Regions from separate parts of the Homo sapiens genome. Here all the other regions are reported to be linked to region 3. Evidence: microRNA targets listed by miRTarBase, many of them from high-throughput screens and not tested one by one. Region 3 holds a microRNA gene; each other region holds the end of a gene's coding sequence.
The links. The annotated mature microRNA hsa-miR-620 reads AUGGAGAUAGAUAUAGAAAU and lies in region 3 at 1,210-1,229, opposite strand. An mRNA with a match to its seed (bases 2 to 7 or 8) in the 3' UTR can be bound and repressed. Matches are read on the target gene's strand: a 7mer-m8 pairs with bases 2 to 8, a 7mer-A1 pairs with bases 2 to 7 and ends in A, and an 8mer does both.

Region 1 (3,227 bases), not on the chromosome of region 3:
GCCAGGTGTGGTGGTATGCGCCTGTAATTCCAGCTCCCCGGGAGGCTGAGGCACAATGATCGCTTGAACGCAGGAGGCTGGAGGTTGCAGTGAGCCGAGATCATGCCACTGCACTCCAGCCTGGGTGACAGAGGGAGACTCTGTCACAAAAAATAAAAACAAAGTCTCTTGATCTGTAGGTTTGGTTAATCCTGCATTATTAGAGCTACAACCACTAAGTCTCAAAGGAACAATGGAGAACCAAACAATGGTGAACCTTCTGTTTTCCAAATGAGGATTAGGTACTCCCTCCCCAGCCCCATCCTTTACAATTTGTTTCCCACTACTAATGTTGGCCAGTCCCATTTGGGTGTTTTTGAAGAGTAAACAAGCAGTTATCTTTCCCTGAAAAGATGGTGGGTATTAAGCTGCTTCTTGCATAGTTTTCAAAACCATATAAAAAAACCTTTTTTTGCTTTTAGGACCCCAGATGGTGAAACGGCCCAAGCCAAAGAAGTCCAGCAGAAACAGGGCTCTCCGCACCAGGAATGGTTCACCAAGTACTTTTCTTTCTAAGCTAACCTTTGGGATACATCACAGAGGATACTTGAAAAACATTTATTTTAAATCATCCGATTGAAGGAATGAACTAACACCAACCAACCAAATAATATGCTTATGATTTATATATGATAGCTAAAACAAATTTTGGCGTTAACACTTCATACTGTTCTGCCAGGCACAGCAGCTCACGCCTGTAATCCCATCACTTTGGGAGGCTGAGGCAGATGGACTGCTTGAGTCCAGGAATTTGAGACCAGCCTGGCCAATATGGTGAAACCCCATCTCTACAAAATATACAAAAATTAGCCAGGCATGGTGGCGTGTGCCTGTGGTCCCAGGTACTTGGGGGACTGAGGCGGGAGGATCACTTGAACCTAGGAGGCAGAGGTTGCAGTGAGCCAAGTTCGAACTCCTGCATTCCAACCAGCCTGGGTGACAGAGGGAGACCCTGTCTCCAAAAAAAAAAAAAAAAAAAAAAAAAAAAAAAAAAAAAAAAAAAATTGACATTAAACCAGTGTTATTAAAAGTCATCTATAGGAAAATGTTATTAGCGTTACTAATGACCCATACCTTGTATTTCTAGTGTCCATAACATCATACTCCATTTTGTGGAACATCAGACTTTGTGATTTCCATGATCTATTTCAAAAGTGGTTGTACTTGTCCTTAGGATGCTAGTCAACTCCACTGGAAAGCTGTTTCTATGTAAAATGATGCAATTCCAAAATGCACATCTAACCTCAATAGGAAGACAAATAACAGTTAAACAGGAAAGCCAACTAAAAACAAACCAAACCTACCAGAAATGGATGGTAGCATGCTTGGACTGAATACTTTCACTTCCTTGGTCTAAGACAAGCAGCAGATTATAGATGGGATAACACCCACCTCTAAAAGGGCTTTGCAAGGATTAAGCAAGATAACATAAATTAACATGAATTGGAATTAAGTACCACAAGGTTTTTCTGTAAATAACCAATCCTAGCCCAGTTATAGGTCTCAGTGTAATGACCATAGTGCCAACATGATCACTTGTGAAGGTCTCTAGATTATCTGTTCTTTGAAGTCAAAGATCTTCTAGACTGGGCACATGGCTCATGCCTGTAATCCCAACACTTTGGGAGGCTGAGATGGGAGGAGAGCTTGAGGCCAGGAATTTGAGACCAGCCTGGGCAACACAGCGAGACCTCCATCTCTACAAAAAAATAATTAGCCCAAAGAAAACCCAGCTACTTGGAAGTCTGAGGTAGGACAGCATGAGCCCAAGAGTTCGAGACCAGCCTGGGCAAGATAGTGAGATCCCATCTCTACAGATTAAAAAAATATATATATATATCCCCTGAACCTCTGGTCTTTGGGTTTGAGCCATTTGCCTCATGGTGTGTTGCTTCTTCACTGCATGAATTCCCAGTGGGTTAAAGGAACCGCAATGGCTGTTCACGGTGCTGACCTTGCTCTCAGTCCACACTGATTTGTCTTACCTTCTGACAGAGCAATGTGATTTGACAAGACTCAATAACAACTTTTAGGGGGCAAAATATTTTTTCAGTCTTTGGTGCTGGCCCAGAAGGTGGCCCACAAACCAATGTTAATTCTATGCATTGTCAAATCTTTGCTCTTTGAATAAAACTTTGAATAACTGGGCAATAAAAATGGTTGACTTGTATTGATTTTCCACAGAAAGGTAAAATTAGATGAAGACAGCTTAGAAATAGAAAGTTCAGTTCACATTAACCTCAATCACACCATCTTAAAAAAAAAAAAGCTGATTACATATAACTGTCAAACTTACGTATTAAAGGTAAATTTACTGCCTAATCAAAACGAGGCTCCAATGCATTTTTAAATGCAAACAAACACTTGTCACCATACATTAACACACCATACTGTTTTTCACTACCAAATATTTTTTGTGAGTTTCCCGCTTAGAGTGTCTTAGTTCGTTCAGGCTGCTCTAACAAAATATCTTACTTATACTGGATAATTTATAAACAATAGAAATATGTCACTCACAGTCCTAGAGGCTAAGTCCAAGATCAAGGCACCAGCAGATATGGAGTCTGGGGAGGGCCCATTCTTCAGAAATGGGTGCCTGCTACGTGTCCTTACATGGTGGAAGAGGCAAGAGCGCCTCCCTGAGCCTCTTTTGTAAGGGTACTTATCCTACTCATGAGGGTGAAGCCCTCATGACTCCATTGCTTCCCAAAAGCCCCACCTCTTAATACTATTACATTGACATTAGGTTCCAACATATGAATTTTGGAAGGGACATCAACATTCAGGACATAGCAGTGAACCCTGTAGGACTGCTCTTTATTTTGTGCTTTCAAAAAGACTACATACAGGTGGTTCTATTTTTGTGTGTTGAAACACTTTCCCAGGCTGCACTTTGCATTTCTGTCCTTAAACTCAGCATGATCCCTGGGCAAGGAGAAAATTTTACTAGTTGAGATCGTACATAGGTTTTGACTCCTTTCTTGCTGCAGGTGACTGAAAAGATCTTTCAGTCTTAAATTTCTAAATTCTACCCTGCAATGATTATATCTTTGTTAACAAAATCTTTGCATGCTTCCATAATTTTTTATTGAGGCCATATGCCTTGGGTATTGAAGTAAGGCATTTAAGGACACAAACTTAAGCTTTTTGTTTGTTATTACCAAACTGCCATTCAGAAAGTTTCTAAC
Region 2 (3,263 bases), not on the chromosome of region 3:
CCTTCCCTGCTCCTTTCCCAGCAAAGCACCAACTCCAGTCTAGAGGAAATTAACTGTCATGGTTTTTCTCTTGCAGCCTATCACTGGGACACCTCTGATTGGATGCCAGGGGCCCGCCTGTCGGACATAGAGGAAGTGCCCAACTATGAGAACCAGGATGGAGGGTCTGCACACCAGGGGAGCACACGGGAGCTGGAGAGCGATTACTACCTGGGTGGTTATGACATTGACAGTGAATACCCACCCCCTCATGAAGAGGAGTTCTTGAGTCAGGACCAGCTGCCTCCTCCTCTCCCGGAGGACTTCCCAGACCAATATGAGGCCCTGCCACCCTCCCAGCCTGTCTCCCTGGCCAGCACACTGAGCCCAGACTGCAGGAGAAGGCCCCAGTTTCATCCTAGCCAGTATCTCCCTCCTCACCCATTCCCCAACGAAACGGATTTGGTGGGCCCGCCTGCCAGCTGTGAATTTAGTACTTTTGCTGTGAGCATGAACCAGGGCACAGAGCCCACAGGCCCAGCAGACAGCGTGTCTCTGTCCTTGCACAATTCCAGAGGCACCTCATCCTCGGATGTGTCTGCCAACTGCGGCTTTGACGATTCCGAAGTAGCCATGAGTGACTACGAGAGCGTGGGAGAGCTCAGCCTCGCCAGCCTTCACATTCCCTTTGTGGAGACTCAGCATCAGACTCAAGTGTAGACATCACATCTTGGGTACTTCACCCTGTTTGTTACAGAAAAGTGGAAGCAGATTGGCTGGGCTTCTGTCCCAGTGGAGCATTGTCTGTGGAATGAGAAGGGAATACTGTATTTTTCCACTAGAAACTTCTTCACAAGTCATACTGTCCCAACAAGCAAGCTTGATTCCAGTTGGGTGAAAATGAAAGGCTCAGAAATTGTTTTTGAGAGGTGACTGGTAATCCTTGATGTAGGTACCTATGTTCACAGCTAAAAATGCAAAGAGGGAAAAATTATTTCACCCACTAAGTTATACAGCCAGTCTTGTATGGCTTTGTGCAGTATTGTGCCCTGGAAAGTGTTACAGCATCAGTCCTTGCAGTATTAAAAACTGGCAACAATCAAAGAGGCATTGTTGCATGTAATTTTGAGCCAATGAAATGAAAATAGTAGTAATGATTGTTGGAAAAGTTAGTCTCTTAGGCGAAAGAGAAGAGAAACAAATATTATTAAACAAACCAGAAAATGGGCTGAAGCCTTTTAAATCAACTCTATTTTTTTGATAAGCTGCCCAATTTTCAGCTATAAAATTAGGCTTGAATAACATGTTTAGTATGCTCAGTTATTTCTGTTTGTTTGTGTTAAGCATCCAATCTAATATAGTTGGGTTTTATGATCTTCAAGAAAGGTATCAATGAAGAGCAACATGAGGCTTTTTGGGTTCCATTTGGTGGGTGGGGGAGGAAGTTAAAGTTGTTTGAACATTAGAAAGAATGTGATTATCTGGTTGGTTTTGTGTTTTCTGGTAAATATTCCAGTTGGTAAATCTAACATTGCTACAGAAGTTGGCTTTGTTCATATAGCTTCTCTACAATTAGATATTTTTAGAAGTTTAAGCAAAACTCACAAATTCAGGGGGGAAAAAAGAAAAAACGATACCTTCAAAGTTTGCGGCCTAGATAATCACAATTCTTCATAATGCAGAGGAAAGGTGTCTGTTATTCTAAATCGGTAGCATCACCATTATAAATACAATTATGTTAAGAAAAGAGGAAAGTAGACTAGTTATTGTGTATAAATTATAATAGTGTGTGTGTGTCTGGGCCTATGTACAAATATGTGCTTGCACTCAGTAAGGCTGCTCTTGAGGAAAGCTAATGTGAAGGTTTTGGGAAATGGACCATGTTGAAAATTCTGCCGGCGAGCATGGCATACCTTTCAATTTCTCTGATCTCTATGGTGTTAGAGAAACATCAAATGCCATATTTTACTCTGGTTCAGTTAACTTTATTTTGGTACTGCCAATAAAGCAAAATTGTGCTTTTTTTTTTTTTTCTCAAGACAGAGTCTTGCTCTGTCACCCAGGCTAGAGTGCAATGGCATGATCTCAGCTCACTGCAATCTCCACCTCCTGGGTTCAAGCGATTCTCCTGCCTCAGCCTCCCAGGTTGCTGGGGTTACAGGTGTGTGCCACCACGCCTGGCTAATTTTTTGTATTTTTAGTAGAGATGGGGTTTCACCATGTTGGCCAGGCTGGTCTCAAACTCCTGACCTCGTAATCCACCTGCCGTGGCCTCCCAAAGTGCTGGGATTACAGGCATGAGCCACCGTGCCCAGCCCAAAACTGTGCTTTTTAAAAACAGTATTTTGTTATAATTTTCCAGAACTTACCTCTGTTTTAAAAGTGTGTAATGTTTGATTACACCCTGGGATTCCCTTCTCATCTGTGGGCTTTGGCCATGATTTCCAAAATTAACAGGAGAATCATTCCACTGGAAATATAACAATCCAGTCCTCAAAACTGAAAGTTGACAGGTTGAGGGACTTTCCTTTTTTGCTTCAATCAGATTACGGCCGCCTGTGCAGTGGCCATGGTAAATATATGCATATTTGCACTATCTGCTTAATGAGCAAATCTGTGTCCACAGTTTCTGATGACATATGGCATTGGTGTGTAAATTGTACTGTCCCTAGTCTGTGCATTATTCACTCAGACATATTTTTAGTTATTTCAATTGCGTTTAATCCACTTCTTTTTTATGAGTCAGTGTTTCTGAATGTTTATGCAAAAAAAAAAATCCTTTTTCATTCCCAAACTTTCTAAGTAAGTGGATACACTACACTTCACAAGTTTTCCAGCCTTTCTCTTCCTGTCTCTTGGTCAGACCTACTCATGGAGGTATTATCCACACTGTGATCTTGAAATAAATGAATTTCACTAAGGCTGCTTTCGAGAACAAAGTCTTTGGTATTTTTCTTATGTAAGAAGCACATTTGCAAGAATCATGGAAAAAAATGACAAACTAATGGCCTAGAATAGAGTGACTGCTACACTTTAAGTAATGCAATGACATAAAAACCATCAAAGTAAAACCAACATGTCATTTCCTGCCCCCAGGAAATATTAGAATGAGATTAATGCTGATGAGTCCCTACTGCTTACACAGCATCTCTTTGAGGGAGAATGCCTGACTGACACAGTAATGAAAGAATAAATAGATCCTAATGCAGTCATGAAGCCACTGAAGAAAATTGTGCCCACCCTTTGCTGTGACCTATATAAAATATCTCTTTCTTTGGGATATC
Region 3 (3,263 bases):
TAAATTTCAGTTTAAAACTTACAGAAATAACCAGACAGTTTTATAGTATCAGACTCTTCACATCATAATTTTTATCAGCTGCAACAAAAAGTAAAACAAAACTGTTTTACTGTTACTGTTATCCTTGCCAAATATAACCTCTGTAAAAAGTATGGTGAAATATGTTCATACATATAAACATGACTGCAGGCGACAGAGCAGTCTTTAACTTATAAGCAACCTAAAGGTCATCTTGTATTAACGACTCTGCTAAAGACATCTTGACAGCACGATATGCTAAAGATTTCTTTCCAGGCTTTCAAAGAACCTATCTGTAATATACCAAACTGTAATTTTTCTACCTTACAAGAAGAACGGTTGGGTATTTACACTTTTTACAACATTCATCCTTATATTGTTCAAATATACAGTGAACATGTGCTAATTTCATAATTCTAAAAAAAGCTAATTTAAAAAACTACCCATAATATTATTGAGTAACATGTAATTATCATATATACTGTTAAAAGATGAGGTTTTTTTAACAAAAAAATTAGCCGGGCTTGGTGGCGTGCACCTGTAATCCCAGCTACTTGGGAGGCTTAGGCAGGAGAATCACTTCTCCTGGCCCGGGAGGCAGGAGGTTGCAGTGAGCCAAAATCATGCCACTGCACTCCAGCTTGGGCTACAGAGCAAGACCCCATCTCAAAAAAAAAAAAAAAAAAAAAAAGAGGGGGGCGGGAGTGGAGGGGGGCGGGGGTTCAAGCAGCTAGGACTGATTTGGTATTAAAGTCATTCATTTCCATTCATTCATGTATATAAACATACACATATATACAGACATTTATTTAGTTCTGAAGATTAATAAAATTCAAGTATTTCCTGAATTTCTCACTTAGTGTGCAAATAACTCAACCGTCTCCCCTACAATTATATTTTGCTTTTAAAAAAAGCCAATATTAAATACATTTTTGTGGAACTACACAAAGCCATATATTAAAATTATTTATAATTGTTGATGGTGAACCTTATAAATGGGATTATACTTCTCTCCTACAAAATGAGGAGTGCTACTGCAAGTGGCTCAAAAAGGAAAAAGAGAAAAATTAAGTTTGAAAAACTTTCATGTCAATGACAAAAGTGTTTTATATAGTAACCAGCTAAAGATAAAATCACTGAAAAAGTGATGTCAAGTTGACAATCCATACTAAAAACTTCTTTGCTTGTTTTATTTCTATATCTATCTCCATATATATGGAGATATCTATATATATATATATATATATACGGAGCTAGATATAGATATATATAGATATAAGTAGTTTATCTTGATTTTCTTATTTTGGGAAAGAGGAGCATAAAAGAAAGGAGAAATTATTGGAATTTAGGTTACCTCCTAAGAAAGGAGGCTTTGCTTTAAGAAGATGGGGAATGTAATACTCTATTCGTCTAACCAATCAATAACCACACTTTGAAATCTTTCACTTGTCTTCAACTAGCCATGTAGATCTGTTCCTCAGTATTGCCTTCGATCCACTCTTACCACTTTCTGTCACCTTACTAAAGCATGGCTCTGATCATGTTTTTAAACTCACTAAAAATAGTCTAATGATCTTATAACTGTACTATTTTTGTCCCACCTATTTGTTCAGTTTTCTCTGTATACTTCCTTCTATTTCCTACCCACTAACAACTCATTGTTTGAGATACTTTGATCACATCCGGTATTCATACCTTTGCTCATGCACCGTACCATGTGCCCAGAATAGGCTACCCTGCTCCCATCTCTGCTTATTACTATGTCATGTTTTCCATAAGACTTTCCTCATATCCCTCCAAGTAGACTAACTTCCCTCTTTCCTGACTTAAGGCATTCTTGATTATGTTTATATTCTAGAACTTCTCATATTTTGTCATGTATTATAGTTAGCTATATACAGTTAAGTCTTAGACCCCACTAGATTAATTAAAGGCTGATCAGAAGGAATTGTCTAGAGCTCAGCTGTCATGACCTATTGTTAAATATATTCCCCCAACAACCCTAGAAAGGAATTCTGCATGGTTTAGATAATATGTTTGATTGATTAACCTCATCTTCCATCTGTGAAACATGCTTCCCGCATTTTTCTTTTTTAATTCTCATTTGACAAAGAAGGCTGGCTCTAAAAAGAACAGCTCAGGCTATGCCCAAAAAGTCAAATGATTACTAACAAGCAAGTTACTTAAAAAACAGTATCCGGTATTTGTGAAAGAAGAGTTTTACATTTCACCTAAATGCCAAATCTCCCAATAATATTAAATCAGACCTTAAAGGGTGGGTAACATTTAGAATAAGTAAACAGGGAGATTAAGGAAAGACGCTGATACAGATGACCTAAGCAGAAGAAACAACATGAATAAAAACACAGAAAATAAGAGTTAGGCATTGAGAATGGTTTGGCTAGAGATGAGTAAGTGGACATTAAGTTCCTTTCATATGCCCCTATAGTGCCTGCAGCTTAGCTGGCAATAAAAAATGTTTAATAAATGAATGATAAAATAACATATTTTTAAAGGGCTGAGGAAGAAATGGAAGACAGAAAAAGAAAGGTGTGATATTTCTTTCACTTTGCCCTCTGATAGTTACATTTTTTTAATGTATCCATTTTTAATGAATGAATAAATTCATTTCTCTGGAAGTGGATCAAATACAAAATTAGACCCAAGTATACACATTTAATAAATGCACACATGGACAGATTTAGTTGTCAAAAGAATGGCTCTAAATGCAAGAATCTCTGTAAAGACCTAATTGGAATCAGAGCTGACGCTGAGATCGCTGTGATACCAGCATGGCCCTAAGCCAAATCTCTTTTCTGGCTGACCATGCAGGCTGTGTCACTGGACATTAACTTCACACAACATGTAACAAACCACCAAGTGTCTAGTTCTCTTGTGTCCGCCTAAGGCCAGAGCCTACCTTCCCTTACAGCAGTGCCAGCTTATCAACGTACTCAAATTTTATTACAACAAAGTCTTGGAAAGCAAATCCAAGAAGGCAAAAAATAAGTCATTTCTACTCTTCTTGTTACATCTAGATCTTGTCATAATTTAGTAAACTAAACTTCTATAATCAATGAGGTGGGAAAGACTCAGTGCTCCAGGCTGGCATTCTAAACCTCCTACAACCGGGTCTGAGCTTCCATTCTGCTCTCGTGTTCCACTACTCCTCCACTGCACCTCTGCCACTCAACTTCGCTAAGTGTTCCTATACAAGCTCCTCTGACACTTAGGATAACCTATGT

Region 1: miRTarBase lists FAM184B as a target of hsa-miR-620. Seed matches in the 3' UTR shown: 7mer-A1 at 995-1,001.
Region 2: miRTarBase lists FAT3 as a target of hsa-miR-620. Seed matches in the 3' UTR shown: 7mer-m8 at 2,078-2,084.

What each region holds. Positions count from the first base shown.
Region 1 is chr4:17,629,860-17,633,086 of GRCh38, reverse strand. It overlaps FAM184B (family with sequence similarity 184 member B), which reads left to right. Exons shown (of 18, transcript NM_015688.2): 18 at 462-3,227. The coding sequence ends at 555. MED28 (mediator complex subunit 28) reads right to left here. Exons shown (of 4, transcript NM_025205.5): 4 at 1-3,227. Among named protein-coding and RNA genes, the nearest start is that of MED28, 17 kb to the right of the region's middle.
Region 2 is chr11:92,890,415-92,893,677 of GRCh38, forward strand. It overlaps FAT3 (FAT atypical cadherin 3), which reads left to right. Exons shown (of 28, transcript NM_001367949.2): 28 at 77-3,263. The coding sequence ends at 699. Among named protein-coding and RNA genes, the nearest start is that of LINC02746, 24 kb to the right of the region's middle.
Region 3 is chr12:116,147,366-116,150,628 of GRCh38, forward strand. It overlaps MIR620 (microRNA 620), which reads right to left and starts at 1,289; the gene lies at 1,195-1,289. All of the region lies in intron 2 of MED13L (mediator complex subunit 13L), which reads right to left.